4 linked regions of the Homo sapiens genome follow. Changing the gene in region 4 together with the main gene of any one other region gives a genetic interaction. Each region holds a gene or a part of one and is shown on either strand. Other genes may lie near its edges.

The links. Genes that interact genetically often act in the same process or in processes that back each other up.
Region 1: changes in TRPC6 (region 4) and SPINK9 together harm fitness less than expected from each alone (positive genetic interaction), as found in Homo sapiens cells (one large-scale study listed by BioGRID).
Region 2: changes in TRPC6 (region 4) and ALG10B together harm fitness less than expected from each alone (positive genetic interaction), as found in Homo sapiens cells (one large-scale study listed by BioGRID).
Region 3: changes in TRPC6 (region 4) and FUT8 together harm fitness less than expected from each alone (positive genetic interaction), as found in Homo sapiens cells (one large-scale study listed by BioGRID).

Annotation. Positions count from the first base shown.
Region 1 is NC_000005.10:148,334,361-148,338,358, reverse strand, and holds the start of SPINK9 (serine protease inhibitor Kazal-type 9 precursor), read right to left. Parts: upstream 2,801-3,998; 5' UTR 2,746-2,800; coding exon 2,691-2,745; intron 1,938-2,690; coding exon 1,906-1,937; intron 1-1,905. UniProt on the Homo sapiens protein: Serine protease inhibitor which specifically inhibits KLK5. May contribute to the regulation of the desquamation process in skin by inhibiting KLK5.
Region 2 is NC_000012.12:38,323,274-38,326,773, reverse strand, and holds part of ALG10B (dol-P-Glc:Glc(2)Man(9)GlcNAc(2)-PP-Dol alpha-1,2-glucosyltransferase), read right to left. Parts: 3' UTR 2,862-3,500; coding exon of another isoform or gene 2,850-2,861; 3' UTR 1-2,849. UniProt on the Homo sapiens protein: Dol-P-Glc:Glc(2)Man(9)GlcNAc(2)-PP-Dol alpha-1,2-glucosyltransferase that operates in the biosynthetic pathway of dolichol-linked oligosaccharides, the glycan precursors employed in protein asparagine (N)-glycosylation.
Region 3 is NC_000014.9:65,716,730-65,720,229, forward strand, and holds part of FUT8 (alpha-(1,6)-fucosyltransferase), read left to right. Parts: intron 1-3,500. UniProt on the Homo sapiens protein: Catalyzes the addition of fucose in alpha 1-6 linkage to the first GlcNAc residue, next to the peptide chains in N-glycans.
Region 4 is NC_000011.10:101,507,508-101,511,007, forward strand, and holds part of TRPC6 (short transient receptor potential channel 6), read right to left. Parts: intron 3,376-3,500; exon of another isoform or gene 3,183-3,375; coding exon of another isoform or gene 3,178-3,182; intron 1-3,177. UniProt on the Homo sapiens protein: Forms a receptor-activated non-selective calcium permeant cation channel. Probably is operated by a phosphatidylinositol second messenger system activated by receptor tyrosine kinases or G-protein coupled receptors.

The DNA.
Region 1 (3,998 bases), on a different chromosome or scaffold from region 4:
TCTCATCTACCCCCTTCAAGACATTTCAAATGTAAAGATGTTTTATGTCAGATATAAAATCATGACTGATAAACATCTTTACCATAGTTGGTTCCCAAATCATACCTTAATGTAAAAATAGATTTTTTTCTCACAATACTGGTTGATGTATCAGTTCTTAAAATACATGGCATATTCTCAAATGCAACCATTCTCATGGGAGTACTCAGAAGTGTGATATATTTTCTGTAGGAATTATCCTACTATTTCTGTCTTTCACTGAAAAAGCTCAATATGAATGCAAGTGTGAAATGTAGGGATAACTACTATCATTTTAATGACTAGTACATTACTGACAGATTTTTACTACTAATTATTGGTAACAATTTACTTGTTATATACTTCACCAGCACATAGATGAATATATCTTAATATTGTAGTTGGGAACCAGTGTTCTAAATTCCTAGAGCAAAGCCTGTGGAAGTAGGTAGGCAATTCCCAAGAAAAGTTTTTCATATTTTTTAAAAAATCTATGAGCATATAGAAGAGCATATAGAGTAAAGTCAAACACATCTGAATGCAAATTCTATGTGACCCTGTAAAAATTTTTTTACCTCTCTAAACTTTAGTTTTTTTATCTGTAAAATAAAGATAATAACCACATTGTAGGGTGGAAGTAAAAAATATGTAAATGAAAAGATATGTGTACAATGCTTAGCACTACATTGCATGGAAAATATTGAATGAATAATAGGCACAATTTTTTATCTTTTGATTTCTCTTTCAGGTCTACACAAACTCCAGCTGTATACAAAAGACTGCATCTCCAGCTTGTTTTGTCTGAGAGGTCTAGGCATGATATTTTATTAATTGTGGACTATCTCTACTTGAATAGCTTGGAATATACTCAAACTTAAAGTTGAATTCTTCCTTCCCTCCAGATGTGCTTCATTAATTAATTCATTCATTCATTCATCAGCTTCCATACACCTCCTGTTATCGGGCTAAGGTTAGTGGAGCTGATGCAAAGATAGGTATGCATGGCATAATGGCAGGAGGACCTTAGAGGCTAGTGCAGCAGAATAGAAACAGCAGTGCCTGATGATAAGTATATGCCAGCGTGATTTCACTTCCTCTTCTTGCCTGCTCAAATCCCAGGGAGACAGAGTTTATGTGATACTCAACAATGTGATGGGAAACTACCAAGCTCGTAACTTTCAGTAATCCTTTACATCCTCTCACAGCTACTAAATCATGAAGGATGGCTTGAACTCAGGCCCATCTGACTCCAAAATTTATATCCTTAACCCTATTATTTTCTTTAATAGGTAAAACAGAAGCCTCAAAGACATAAAATAAATTTCCCAGGCCCCAGTGTCACACAGTTAATAAGCAACAGAGTTTAGAGTGGAACTCAAATTGAGTACCAAATAAGATTTTTGCTACCACACCTAGATTTTTTCAACAATACTCATTACTGTAACCTGAGTCATGAATGGAAGGCTAAATTAAAGTCCTTATTTTCTAAGACAGAGAACAAAGATATGTGTGACCCATTTAAAAATTATAAGAATCATGACTTGCCCTTATTGAGTTTCACTCTATGCCAGGCACTGTGCTAAGCTCTTTTCAAATACTATGGCTTCAAGTCTTGGAATAATGTTATAAGTATGTTGCCCATGGCCACGTGATCAAAAACGTGGAATTAAAGACCAGGCCTTTCTAAATTTGTTGCTAGTGTCTCACCACCTTGTTCTACTCTCTCCATTTTAGAAAGATCTGCCTACAATTTTTGAAATAAAACCAGTTTTCATACACATAAAGTAAATATTCAAACATATAGAAATTTAATTACTGTGTAGTATCAAATATTTCCTTACTGATATTGACTTTAAAATTACATAAAAGTAGGATGGGTGTACTGACCATCTGTTTCGTCTGTTTGGCACATTCTATACCTGGAAGAAAAACAAAGACAAGGCAATATTAAACTCTGGAAGAACCTAATCTTACTAGAAAAAGAATCTTTGATTTATGCTTTAGCTTTCAGCCTGTCATAAAAATGTAAGTCTCTCTTCACAACTGTGTATCAGCATTGTATCAAAGGTTGAAGCTCTTCACACGTATCTTTAAATTTTTTTTCTTTTTTGGAGTGGGAGTGGAATCTAGTCAAAGAAATGGAAAAGATGCCACGATGAATGAGAATTTTGTCTTAATCTTTTTTACTTCATAACCAGAGCTCAGTAGAGACAGAAGAAATAAGTGAGTCATATTTAGGGAGATGTGCTATTGTGGACAGGTGTAGATGACAGATGTTGGAACAGTGGTTGAAAATTCTAGGGAGGCCAATTTTAACTCAATAATAGAAGAATAGCCCATGGTGCCAAACAATTGATTGTAATGTTTTATGAATAAATGAGTTCCCTGTAAATGGTGACATCAAGTCAAAGCAGAGTCTGGATGATCCTCTCCCTAAAAAATTATACAAAGTATTCTCATGAATAAGCATTTGACTTTAGATGACTGTTAACATCCACTCTACCCCTGAGGTGATGTGATTTAGCAATTCGTTGGTTGAGGCAAAAGATTCATTTTAAAAAGTTTCCCTTATTATTTATGTGATGAATTACATATATCCCAGAATTACATAGGCAGAAGACTGCATGAGCTATTAGTACAAGGGCAGGGGCAGTATTATCAGAGATACTCACTGAACATGGTTGCAAGTGTCAGAGCCAAGAGTAGGACTATGGCTGTTGCTCTCATAGTACTGAAGTGGCCAAGGCAGTCAGATGTAGGGAAAAGAAGTGACCTGGTGTCCGTCCAGCTCACTTTGATCCTGCCTTATATATTTTCAAGAATTCCTGCCTCAATTGTGAAATAGCAATTTCTAAGTAGTACAACTCCAGAAAGAGGTCAGAAATGTCTGCGAGCCATGGGGATTCTTTTCTTGTGAAAGACAGGTAATTGCACATGCCATTTTAATAGCTAGTCCCCAAACCCAGGCTGATGGATGAAGAATGAGATGGTAGCTTTGCTTTGAACTACAATTACGTACATAATCAGTGGCATTTTTCATTTCATACAATAACTTGCAATAGACAAGCCAGCAATCTTTTGGCCATGGTTTAATAAGTTTTAATTGTTCCTTAATTAAACCATGAGTCATTTGAATTCTTTAATAAAGGCTACAAAAGTGCTGATTTTGGAATGGGCTAGGTTTCAGATAGAGTGACTATGAGAAAACTCTGGAAGAAGCTCTTGCAGGTGTTGTAGGTAGAATTGGAGGACACTTTATACTACTAATGGAAGTATTAGTATCTAAGGCTGAATTTCACATTTATTTCCCTTCTAAAGTAAAGAGATAGCTGAAACTTATTCTGGTATGATCTGGGGACAAGATCATCATACTATCTCTGAGAGCTGAAACTTTGGGAATCTTGCACACCTGAACTAATTGCCAGCTACACCACTCTCCATGTGACCTTGTACAAGCTATTTATCCGCTATAAGCCTTGGCTTTTTTTAATCTTCATTTGATCATCTCATAAATATTAATGAGCATTTACTCTGTCTTAGAGACTGTATTTTATCTTGAATATGCCACAGTCCATGAAAAACTGACTGCTCTCATGTAGTTTGAGAAAGACCGTCTTCTTTTTTTTTTTGGAGACAGAGTCTTGCTTTATCACCTAGGCTGGAGTGCAGTGGCGTGATCTCAGCTCACTGCAACCTCTGCCTTCTGTGTTCAAGGGATTTTCCTGACTCAGCCTCCCAAGTAGCTGGGATTACAGGAGCATGCCACCACACCTGGCTAATTTTTGCATTTTTAGTACAGACCGGATTTCACCATATTGGCCAGGCTGGTCTTGAACTCCTGACCTCAAGTGATCTGCCTGCCTTGGCCTCCCAAAGTGCTGCAATTACAGGCATGAACCTCTGTGCCCAACCGAAAGACTCTTATCTTCTTGATCAAACTTATTTAAGGTCCTCTGGACCCTTTTCTTGACTAGGCCTTG
Region 2 (3,500 bases), on a different chromosome or scaffold from region 4:
CTCAGTTACACAAGTTTTTGTATATTGGAAACGTCAGTTGTCAACATTAAATACATAAAAATGCCCTATATAAAAAATAATTAACAGCTATTCCTAGAGTGGTAAAATGTAGCCCAACTAAAAAAAACAAAGTATTTGTAATTAGTTGAAATGTCTTTTACCTTTAAATTCTTTAACCTGTTATTCGTTGAAGGTTACTGATTTTTCTTATTTTAAATAGAAATAAGAATATTTTCTTATTTTAAATAAAAAGCAATTATTTTGAAATTATACCCTTAATAGGGTATAAAGTTTCTTTAATAAGAAACTTTCCTTTAAAGTGTTATAACCTTTTAATGGTTGAAAGTTATTTGTTTTTCTTATTTTAAATAAACAGTAATTATGTTGAAATCATATCCTATCAAAGAAACAACATGTTTACAAGTAAATACATGTATAAGCATTAAATGCTAGCAGGGGTCTCCAATCTTTTGGCTTCCCTGGGCCACACTGGAAGAACCATCTTGGGCCACACATAAAATACACGAACACTAATGATAGCTGATGAGCTAAAAAATAAAATAAAATAAAATAAAATAATAAATAAAATAAAATAAAATAAAATCACAAAATATCTCATCATGTTTTAAGAAAGCTTACAAAATTTGTGTTGGGGCCGCATTCAAAGCCATCCTGGGCTGCATGTGGCCTGTGGGTTGAACAAGCTTGCACTAAGGCAAATAAAAATTGTTAACACTGGGTCAGAAAATTACACAGAAAAATGTTTAGGATGACTCTTATTATGAAACATGATTTACTTCCTAAAATTAGCCACGGTTATGTAGGATGTTTTTTCTATTCACTTCACTCTATACTAAAAACTTCATTCAGTATATATTTACTCAATATTTATCATATGACATACTTATAAATATTATGAGTATATGGCAGGAATGAATCCTTTTTAAAATAAGGTTATACACATACCAATCAGACACTGACTAGAGTTAGGACAAATACTATTCTCATTTGAAATGAGGACTAAAGACTAAACCACTTGCCTTATTGATCCCAGAGCCACAACCAAATATAAAAATCTTAACTCCCATGTTAAATGTTTTTTTCTACAAGCCCACAGTTCCTAAGTCATATTTCAATTTCCATTTAAAAATTTTCAAATTTATATCACAATTCTTACTTGCTTCACTTTTTAATGAAATTCCAATTACTTCAAAGATAATAAACGCTTGCTAACCTAATAAACACAAAATTTATTTCTTCATGTGAATAAATATTTTATTTAAAAGTGAGTCCAAAATAACAGTCCACTATTTAGGTGGTATAAATAAAAATGGTAGATCCCTTCCTCTCTCCTCTCTTCCAACAATTCTAAGGAAAATAATATCAAGCCAAGTGGCAATTAAGTTCAAACTAGAAATACATTTCATTAAGCTACGTATTTATTAGAAATAAATTACATTAGGCTATTTACACAAGTTATTTTATGACTGGCTATGCACATTTCAGAAATAACTCTAAGAAGACAAAGAAAAGGCCAGACAGCTAAAATAATTTATCTTGCCAAAATGAGATGCTAAGTTTAAACTGAGAGATGCTATCTTTCCAAATCATTTAAATACATAGACGCAGTTCAAAAGATTCCTGACTATCCATTAATGGAAAACATAAACGTTAACAAAATTCACAGCATACCTGAATCTTACTCATGCTACCTAAAGATAACATATCTCTAGAATTTCACAGAAGATAGAATCAGTTCAAAATGATGTATTACTGAACCTATAATGATTTATGGACTAGATATTTTTATGACACTTTTCAAAATAGACATACTCACAGACTTTAGTAATGGTAACTGTAGGGCTCCAGATGCCCTCGAGCAGGGCAATATTTTTTTCATAATCACCTAATTTTAATCAATTCAGCTAAGTCTAATGTTTAAAAATTCATGAAAAAATATCTATCTACTCAATAACTTTTGAAAACACAAATATAACTAAGAATGTTTCTAAAAGCAAGGATCTAAACACCTAAGAATGGTCTTCTCAGTTGTTTCAAGTGAATGACTTTGAGTTTAGTATCATTTCTTGAACGACTAAAGGCAAAATGATCTGTTGTGCCAAGTTCTTACATAATCATTTTATCTGTTATCTATTTTGGAAAATTCACCAGCAAATGGCCATCTTTGAACTGCCTAGAAAATTTAACGAAGACATTTATCTTAAATTCGAAAGTATTGATAAGCATTCCTGTTTTAAAATAATAAATAGTTGAAAATAGCACCTTTTAATACATGGCATTCTTTTCTTAAAATGCCAAGTACTATATTTTATGTATTTTATAAAAAATGTGGAAGATTAACCTGTTTCTCTCTGAATGTAGATTTTCACCAAAACATCTCTTAAACAGCAGGGACTCAACACTTAAAAATGAACTAGAAGAGCTGGGCACAGTGGCTCACGCCTGTAATCCCAGCACTTTGGGAGGCGAGGCAGGTGGATTACCTGAGGTCAGGAGTTCGAGACCAGCCTGGCTAACACGGTGAAACCCCGGCTCTACTAAAAATAGAAAAAATTAGCCAGGCTTGGTGGTGGGCGCCTATAATCTCAGCTACTCGGGAGGCTGAGGCAGGAGAACTGCTTGAACCCAGGAGGTGGAGGTTTCAGTGAGCCAAGATCGCGCCATTGCATTCCAGCCTGGGGGACAAGAGCGAGACTTCTCCTCAAAGACAAAAACAAACAAAAAAAGATATAGAACAGTGATCCCTCCAAAGAGCAGTCTTCTTTAATTACAGGGTAGAATATTTTCCTCAATTTTGCCAGACTAGATCAGAGTGGAAGCTTCTCCTCTCAGAAGTATTCCTAAATACAAAATCCTTGCATTAATATTATCAGACAAAAAGTTACTTTCCCTAAATTACACATTCTTTTTTCAATTTTGACTTCCCAGATTTAGTTCTCCACTATAGTAAATTAATGACAAAAGTATAATTTCTTTGAGTGTCCTCTCTCATCTAATTTTTAAGAAGTCTGGGTAAAACACGTTTTTCTACAATCACTGTTATAACTAATGCCGATCTATTTTCTGAGTACTAGAGTACAACCAAAAAATGGCCTGCATTTATTACTCAAATTATACTTGTAATTTTCACCTGCACACAATTTTATATTTGTAAATGTAGACTCATCACTTAAAACTCAGAGAAGCAAAATTTGACATTGAGGGGAAAGTAATTTGTTCACTTATAGCTACTTTTAAAGTTTAGAAACATAAAATTATGTTAAAAGATGAGTTCTATTCACAATTCTAAGTTTACATGTCAAAGTTAACATGCCCAAATAATACTTTCCTGTAATGGAATGACAACCCAAAAAATACACTCAAAATAATAAACACAAAATTCAAAAAGTAACACAAAATAATCCTACCCCAGCAGTTGTTCCCTAATCTACAAAGTCAGACCAAAGGATTTCTCAACTTTCTTTCAATTCTGACTTTTT
Region 3 (3,500 bases), on a different chromosome or scaffold from region 4:
CGATGGTCGCTGTCTCTTTGGAGCTGTTGGGTACACCTCCCAGATGGGGCAGCCAGGCAGAGGCACTCCTCACTTCCCAGACGGGGCGGCCGGGCAGAGGCGCTCCTCACTTCCCAGACGGGGCGGCCGGGCAGAGGCGCTCCTCACCTCCCAGACGGGGCGGCCGGGCAGAGGCGCTCCCCACTTCCCAGATGGGGCGGCCGGGCAGAGGCACTCCCCACTTCCCAGACGGGGCGGCCGGGCAGAGGTGCTCCACACTTCCCAGACGGGGTGGCCGGGCAGAGGCGCTCCACACTTCCCAGACGGGGTGGCCGGGCAGAGGTGCTCCCCACTTCCCAGATGGGGCGGCCGGGCAGAGGCGTTCCCCACTTCCCAGACGACGGGCAGCCGGGCAGAGGCGCTCCTCATTTCCCAGATGGGGCGGCCGGGCAGAGGCGCTTCTCACCTCCCAGACGGGGCGGCCGGGCAGAGGCGCTCCTCACCTCCCAGACGGGGCGGCCGGGCAGAGGCGCTCCTCACCTCCCAGACGGGGCGGCCGGGCAGAGGCGCTCCTCACTTCCCAGACGATGGGCGGCCGGGCAGAGGCACTCCTCACCTCCCAGACAGGGCAGCCGGGCAGAGACGCTCCTCACTTCCCAGACGGGGCGGCCAGGCAGAGACTCTCCTCACCTCCCAGATGGGGCAGCTGGGCAGAGGTGGCTCCTCACATCCCAGACAGGGCAGCTGGGCAGAGGCGCTCCTCACTTCCTAGACGGGGCGGCCGGGCAGAGGCGCTCCTCACCTCCCAGACGAAGGGCGGCCGGGCAGAGGCGCTCCTCACATCCCAGACGATGGGCGGCCGGGCAGAGACGCTCCTCACCTCCCAGACGGGGCGGCCGGGCAGAGGCGCTCCCCACTTCCCAGACGGGGCAGCCGGGCAGAGGCGCTCCCCATTTCCCAGACGGGGCGGCTGGGCAGAGATGCTCCTCACTTCCCAGACGGGGCAGCTGCCAGGCAGAGGCGCTCCTCACCTCTCAGACGGGGCGGCCTGGCAGAGGCACTCCTCAGTTCCCAGACGGGGCGGCCAGGCAGAGGCGCTCCTCACCTCCTTCTTTGTCCCTTTTTATAGTTTTTTTTTCTTGAAATCTATTTTGTCTATTACAGGTATAGCTACTCCTGCTCTTTTTTGGTTTTCATTGGCATGAAATATCTTTTTCCATCCCTTTATTTTTAGTCTGTGTGTCTTTATAGGTGAAGTATGTTTCTTGTAGGTAACAGATCATTGAATTTTGTGTTTCTTAGCTATTCAGCCACTCTATGTCTTTTGATTGGAGAATTCAGTTTGTTTACATTTAGTGTTATTAATAATAAGTAAGATCTTACTCCTGCCATTTTGTTATTTGTTTTCTGGTTATTTTGTGGTCTTCTCTTCCTTCTTTCCTTCCTTTCTATTTTCCTTTTAGTGAAGGTGATTTTCTCTGGTGGTTTGTTTTAATTTCTTGCTTTTTATTTTTTGTGTATTCATTGTATGTTTTTTGATTTGAGATTATCATGAGGCTTGCAAATAACTTATAGCTCGTTATTTTAAACTGATGACAATTTGGCACCGATTGCATAAACAAACATGCAATCAAAAAGAAGTCTAATAAATACTCTGTACTTTGTCCCCCCAACTTTTTAACTTTCTGTTATTTCTATTTATATCTTATGGTACCAAGTATGTCTTGAAAAGTTGTAGTTATTTTTGATCGGTTCATCTTTTAGTCTTTTACTTAAGATATCAATAGGTTACATACCACAATTACAGTGTTATAAAATTATGTGGTTTTTTGTATGCTTAGTATGACCAGTGAGGTACCTTCAGATCATTTTTTAATTGCCCATTAACACCTTTTTTCCTTCAAATTGAAGGATTCCCCTTAGCATTTCTTGTAGAACAGGTCTGATGTTGATGAAATCTCTCAGCTTTTGTTTGTCTGGGAAAGTCTTTATTTCTTCTTTAAGCTTGAAGGATGTTTTCACTGGATATACTATTCTAGGGTAAAAGTTTTTTTTCCCTCAGTAGTTTATGTCATACCACTCTCTTTTGGCCTGTAATGTTTCCACTGAAAAGTCTGCTGTCAGACATATTGGAGCTCCATGGTATGTTATTTATTTTTTCTTTTGCTGCTTTTAGGATCCTTTCTTTATCCTTGACCTTTGGAAGTTTGGTTATTAAATGCCTTGAATGGTAGTCTTCTTTGGGTTAAATCTGGTTGATGTATAACTTTCTTGTACTTGAATATTGATATCTTTGTCTAGAATTCGGATGTTCTCTGTTTCATCCCTTTGAATAAACGTTCTGTTCCTATCTCTCTCTGCCTCCTTCTTAAGGCCAATAACTGTTAGATTTGCCCTTTTGAAACTATTATTTAGATCTTATAGGCATGCTTCATTGTTTTTCATTCTTTTTTCTTTTGTCTCTGTTGACAGTGTATTTTCAAATAGCCTGTCTTTAAGCTTACCAATTCTTTCTTCTGCTTGATGACTTCTATTAAGAGACTCAGTATGTCAGCTGCATTTTTCAACCCCAGAATTTCTGCTTGATTCCTTTTAATTGTTTCAACCTCTTTGTTAACTTTATCTGATAGGATTCTGAATTCCTTCTTTGTGTTATCTTGAACTTCTTTGCATTTCCTCAAAATAGCTCTTTTGAATTCCCTCTCTGAAAGGTCACATATCTATGTTTCTTCAGGATTTGGTCCCTGGTGCCTTATTTAGTTTGTTTTTCAAGGCCATGTTTTCCTGGATGGTCTTGATGCTTGTGGGTGTTCATTGGTGTCTGGGCATTGAAGGTATTTATCGTAGTCTTCACAATCTGAACTCTTTTGTACCTGTCTTAGAAAGGCTTTCCAGATATTTGAAGGGAGTTGGCTGTTGTGATCCAGTTTTGGTCATTGCAGCCATATCTACATTAGGGGGCACCCCAAGCCCGATAATGCTGTGGTTCTTACAGACTTGCAGAGGTACTACCTTTGTGGTCTTAGATAAGGTCTAGAAGAATTCTCTGGATTACCAAGCAGAGACTCTTGTTCTCTTCCCTTACTTTGTCCCAAACAAACGAGTCTCTGATTCTGTGCTCCAAGCCTCTTGTAGTTGGGGGAGTGGTGACACAAGCACTTTTGTGGCTACCACCACTGGAACTACACTAGACCAGACCTGAAACCAGCATAGCACTGGATCTCACCCAAGGCCCAGTGTAACCCCTACCTGGCTACCTCCTGTGTTGGCTCAAAGTTCTAGGGCTCTATAATGAGCAGGTGGCAAAGCCAGTCAGGCTTTTATCCATCCCTTCAGGACAGCAAGCAAGTTCCCCTGGGCCCCAGGCAGGTCCAGAGATGCCATCTGGGAGCCAGCATCTGGAGTTGGAAACCTTAGAACCCTATCTGGTCCTCTATTCTCCTGCAGCTGAGCTGGCATCCAAACCATAAGGCAAAGTGCTTCCCACTTTTCACTCCTCTTTTCATAGGCAAAAGAGTCTC
Region 4 (3,500 bases):
TTCTAGTACAGCACATCTTCCAACAGCTGTCTAATAAAGCATGCATAGGTGAATTTTTAAAGAACGTGTACATCTAAAACTGACTTTGTCCTACCTCTAAACTTAACTGATAGTTTGGCTGGGTAGAGAATTCAAGGTTGAGGATAATTTTGGAGGCCTTGCTCTAATAAATTATAGTTTTGTGGCTACTATTGAGAAGCATGATGCAATTTTGATTCTGGATATTGTCTTTGTCTCTGGTGTCCTAAAATTACATGGTTGTTTATTGAAGGGAGTCTCTTCTCCACAGTGCTGCCCATTTAATCTGGAATAAAAAGTGTCCTTTTCTTAGAAATAGTCTTGCCCTATTTATCTGATCATTTTGTTTTCTGCTTTCAATGTACCATTTCTGGAACTCCTTCTTTTTGATGTTGGACATCCTGTAATTGTCCTTTAATTTTCTTATCTTTTCTATTTCCAATTATTTATGTTCAATATTATTTATTATATTCTGGGAAATTTCTTCAACTTTAGATTATATCTATGAAAATTGCTATTATATTTTTAATTTTCAAAAACACCCTTTATTTTCAAATGTTACTTTTTATAAGACTTTTCTGCTTTTAAAGGCACAAACATTTTTTCTTCTCTCTCTGGGGATGTTAAAGATTGCACACATCACAATTTAGAGAACTTACTCCTGAGTTGCTTTTTTATGTTTGTTTGCTTTGGTCTCTGTATTTCATAGTAGAATTTTTCCTCGTATAGCTAGTGATTCTTAGTAGATATTCTTTGCTTCTTTTTAAAGAAATATTCCTTATAATGTCTTTTCTAAGAGAGTATAATTTCCCCTTATAAAAACTAGAGTGAGCCTAATGTTGGTTTTGGCAAAAGGTGATGTCTGAGTTACGGTGAGTTTCTAGAAGAATCACATTATTTCTGAGTTAACAAGATGGATGAGGTAGAAGAGACAGGAGATCATCAAGGTTTGTTACATGAGGAAACATCATCTTCCTACTGAAATTCTTAACCCTCTTCCCTTCTCTCTGTCACTTTTCTGGCTTCTACTAACCTCTTTAGGCTTTCACTTCCTCTCTCTTATCTTCTGTATTTATTGCTTTGCGTAGTTTCTATTGTAGACAAGAGGAAGTTCAAAGATTAGGGGGAGAGACAGTATCTTCCAAACATGAAGAATGCTTTGAAAAAGAAAAACTGTAAATTTAAGGGAGAAACAAAATAGGATCAGGGATCTATAAAAGTAAGATGAAAGTACTGGGAGTGAGAACTTGCAAGATAAGTTCTCATGTAACTAAAAAAATGACACAAAACTGACACAAAATAGTAACATATCAAAACATCAAGAACAAGCTCCATTTTTTTTCATCCATTAAAATGGGAGAAATAATTATTCTGACCTATCTCAAAGGACTACTTTCAGAGGTAATTGAAATTATGAATGTGGAAAGCATTTTAGGTTGGATTTAAATTTTTTTACAGCCACATCCATAATAATAAGCACATATATAGCACTTATAAAAATAAGAAGGACACTTGGACTTCATCATTTTTCAGCTGTTATGCAATAAGAAGACCCATGAAAAAAAGGCAAGGACTGAGATGGTAATTGATGTAAGTTGTTTTGTCTTTTTCTTTTTTTTTTGAGACAGGATCTCGTTCTGTTGCCTTACTATAGCCGCAACCTCCCAGACTCAATCAATCCTCCTTCCTCAGCCTCCTGTGTAGCTGGGACTAAAGGCACATGCTACCTCACCCAGTTAATTTTTGTATTTTTTTTATAGATGGGGTCTCGCCATATTGCCCAGGCTGGTATCAAACTCGTGGGCTCAAGTATCCTCCCACCTCAGCCTCCCAACATACTGGGATTACAGGTATGAGCCACCACACCTGCCCTTTGTTTGTCTTTTTAAAGAAAGAAAAATAAGAATTAGCAACTTTACTTGTATCTCAATTTTTAATCTGGTTTACAAAATTTTATTTTTTCATCCAATACTAAGTTTACATTGAGCTAAATAGAATGTCTGAGTTGTGACATCTTTTATTCTAAGATTTTAAAATAACAATCTATGACTTTCCTGCCCATTTATTTGAAAAATGACAAGTTCTATCTTGGCAAGCCACTAATCATAATGATGTATCTTATTTCCTTCTAAATTACTGTGGCTTTTGTACCTATAACTTCTTGAAGGAACAGCAAAGATATTTCCGTAGAATTTTTTTTTTCAGTTTTAAAGCATCTTCTGTCTTAGTTGTTGTGACCACACATATTAATCATATGCAATGATATAATTTTTAGATACATTTTTATAAAAAGGCCTAGATTATCATAATCTGTTTAGCACTCTGTCAACTATATATGAGTCTGTGACAGAATTACAACTTGGTCATTCTGTATCTGAAAAGTCAGAATGTATCTGATACATTTTTGTTTGTTTTTGATTACTTTAGGAATATTACAACAGCAGGCACAATGAATTTTTATTGTTTTAGGCATATTACAAATGCAGGCCCAATGGATTCAGCACCCCTTGCATGAGTAGTAAGACACAGTAAAAGCTGCTTGTATGTTGTTGACAGAACAAAACGCATGCTTTGCTGCTCTCCTTATCTTTCTTAACTGCAGCCTGGAGAAGCAATAAAAGATTCTACTTGTATTTTTATGTCACAAGTGGTGTTGCTTACTCCCTGCCTCTCCTATGCAAAAGCAAAATGTGTAAAACAACTTTTTAAGTAACAGATATTTGAAAGCAATTCAGGAAAGATACTAGATGTTACTAGATTATATTACAAACCTCTCTGCAAATGGTTTTTATAAAACTATGTTGTAGAATTTTACATTAATAGCAAATGAAACCTAGCAAAATCATCTGTTAAAAAGAGGAACAACTCAGCCCATAGCTCCATAGCACTACTTCAACAAAAGACATTTTCATTTCAGCTAAAGGGCACACTTTTCAAATTCGGCTCTTCTATTTATGAAAATATTTATTAAGAAATTTTCTTCACCCATTTAGCCACATTTAGCATGGTTAAAAGATTAGTAACCTACATTTTCATGTCTGTATTTTTACAAGGTGTTTATCACAACATATAAATACTGGTTCTAAGAAAGAGTAATTAGCCACCACCCCTATGGCACTCAAATGTAGATTAGGTCATGAAAACCATGTTTTTACATACCTCATTTTCCTGGTCCTTTTAGTATTTGTTGCCCCAGATAGTGAGAGATGGAATAATCCATCTCTATTGAAAATGCCAGCAATGCAAATTAGCTTCTGAGTAGAGTGGATTGCATGCTAGAGTCCACAGCATGTGTAGTAATTCTCTCTACTTCCTGTTCAACTATGATACACTTTTATAACATGGAACTGCTTTTATACAAACTAAGCTCCATATTAAGTTCTTAGCTTAACTTTGACTTTGTGCTTTAAAAATCCTTACAAATATTTTAAAGCGCAATTCTATTACAGCAGAAGTTCTAAAATTGTAAATGGAATGTAACT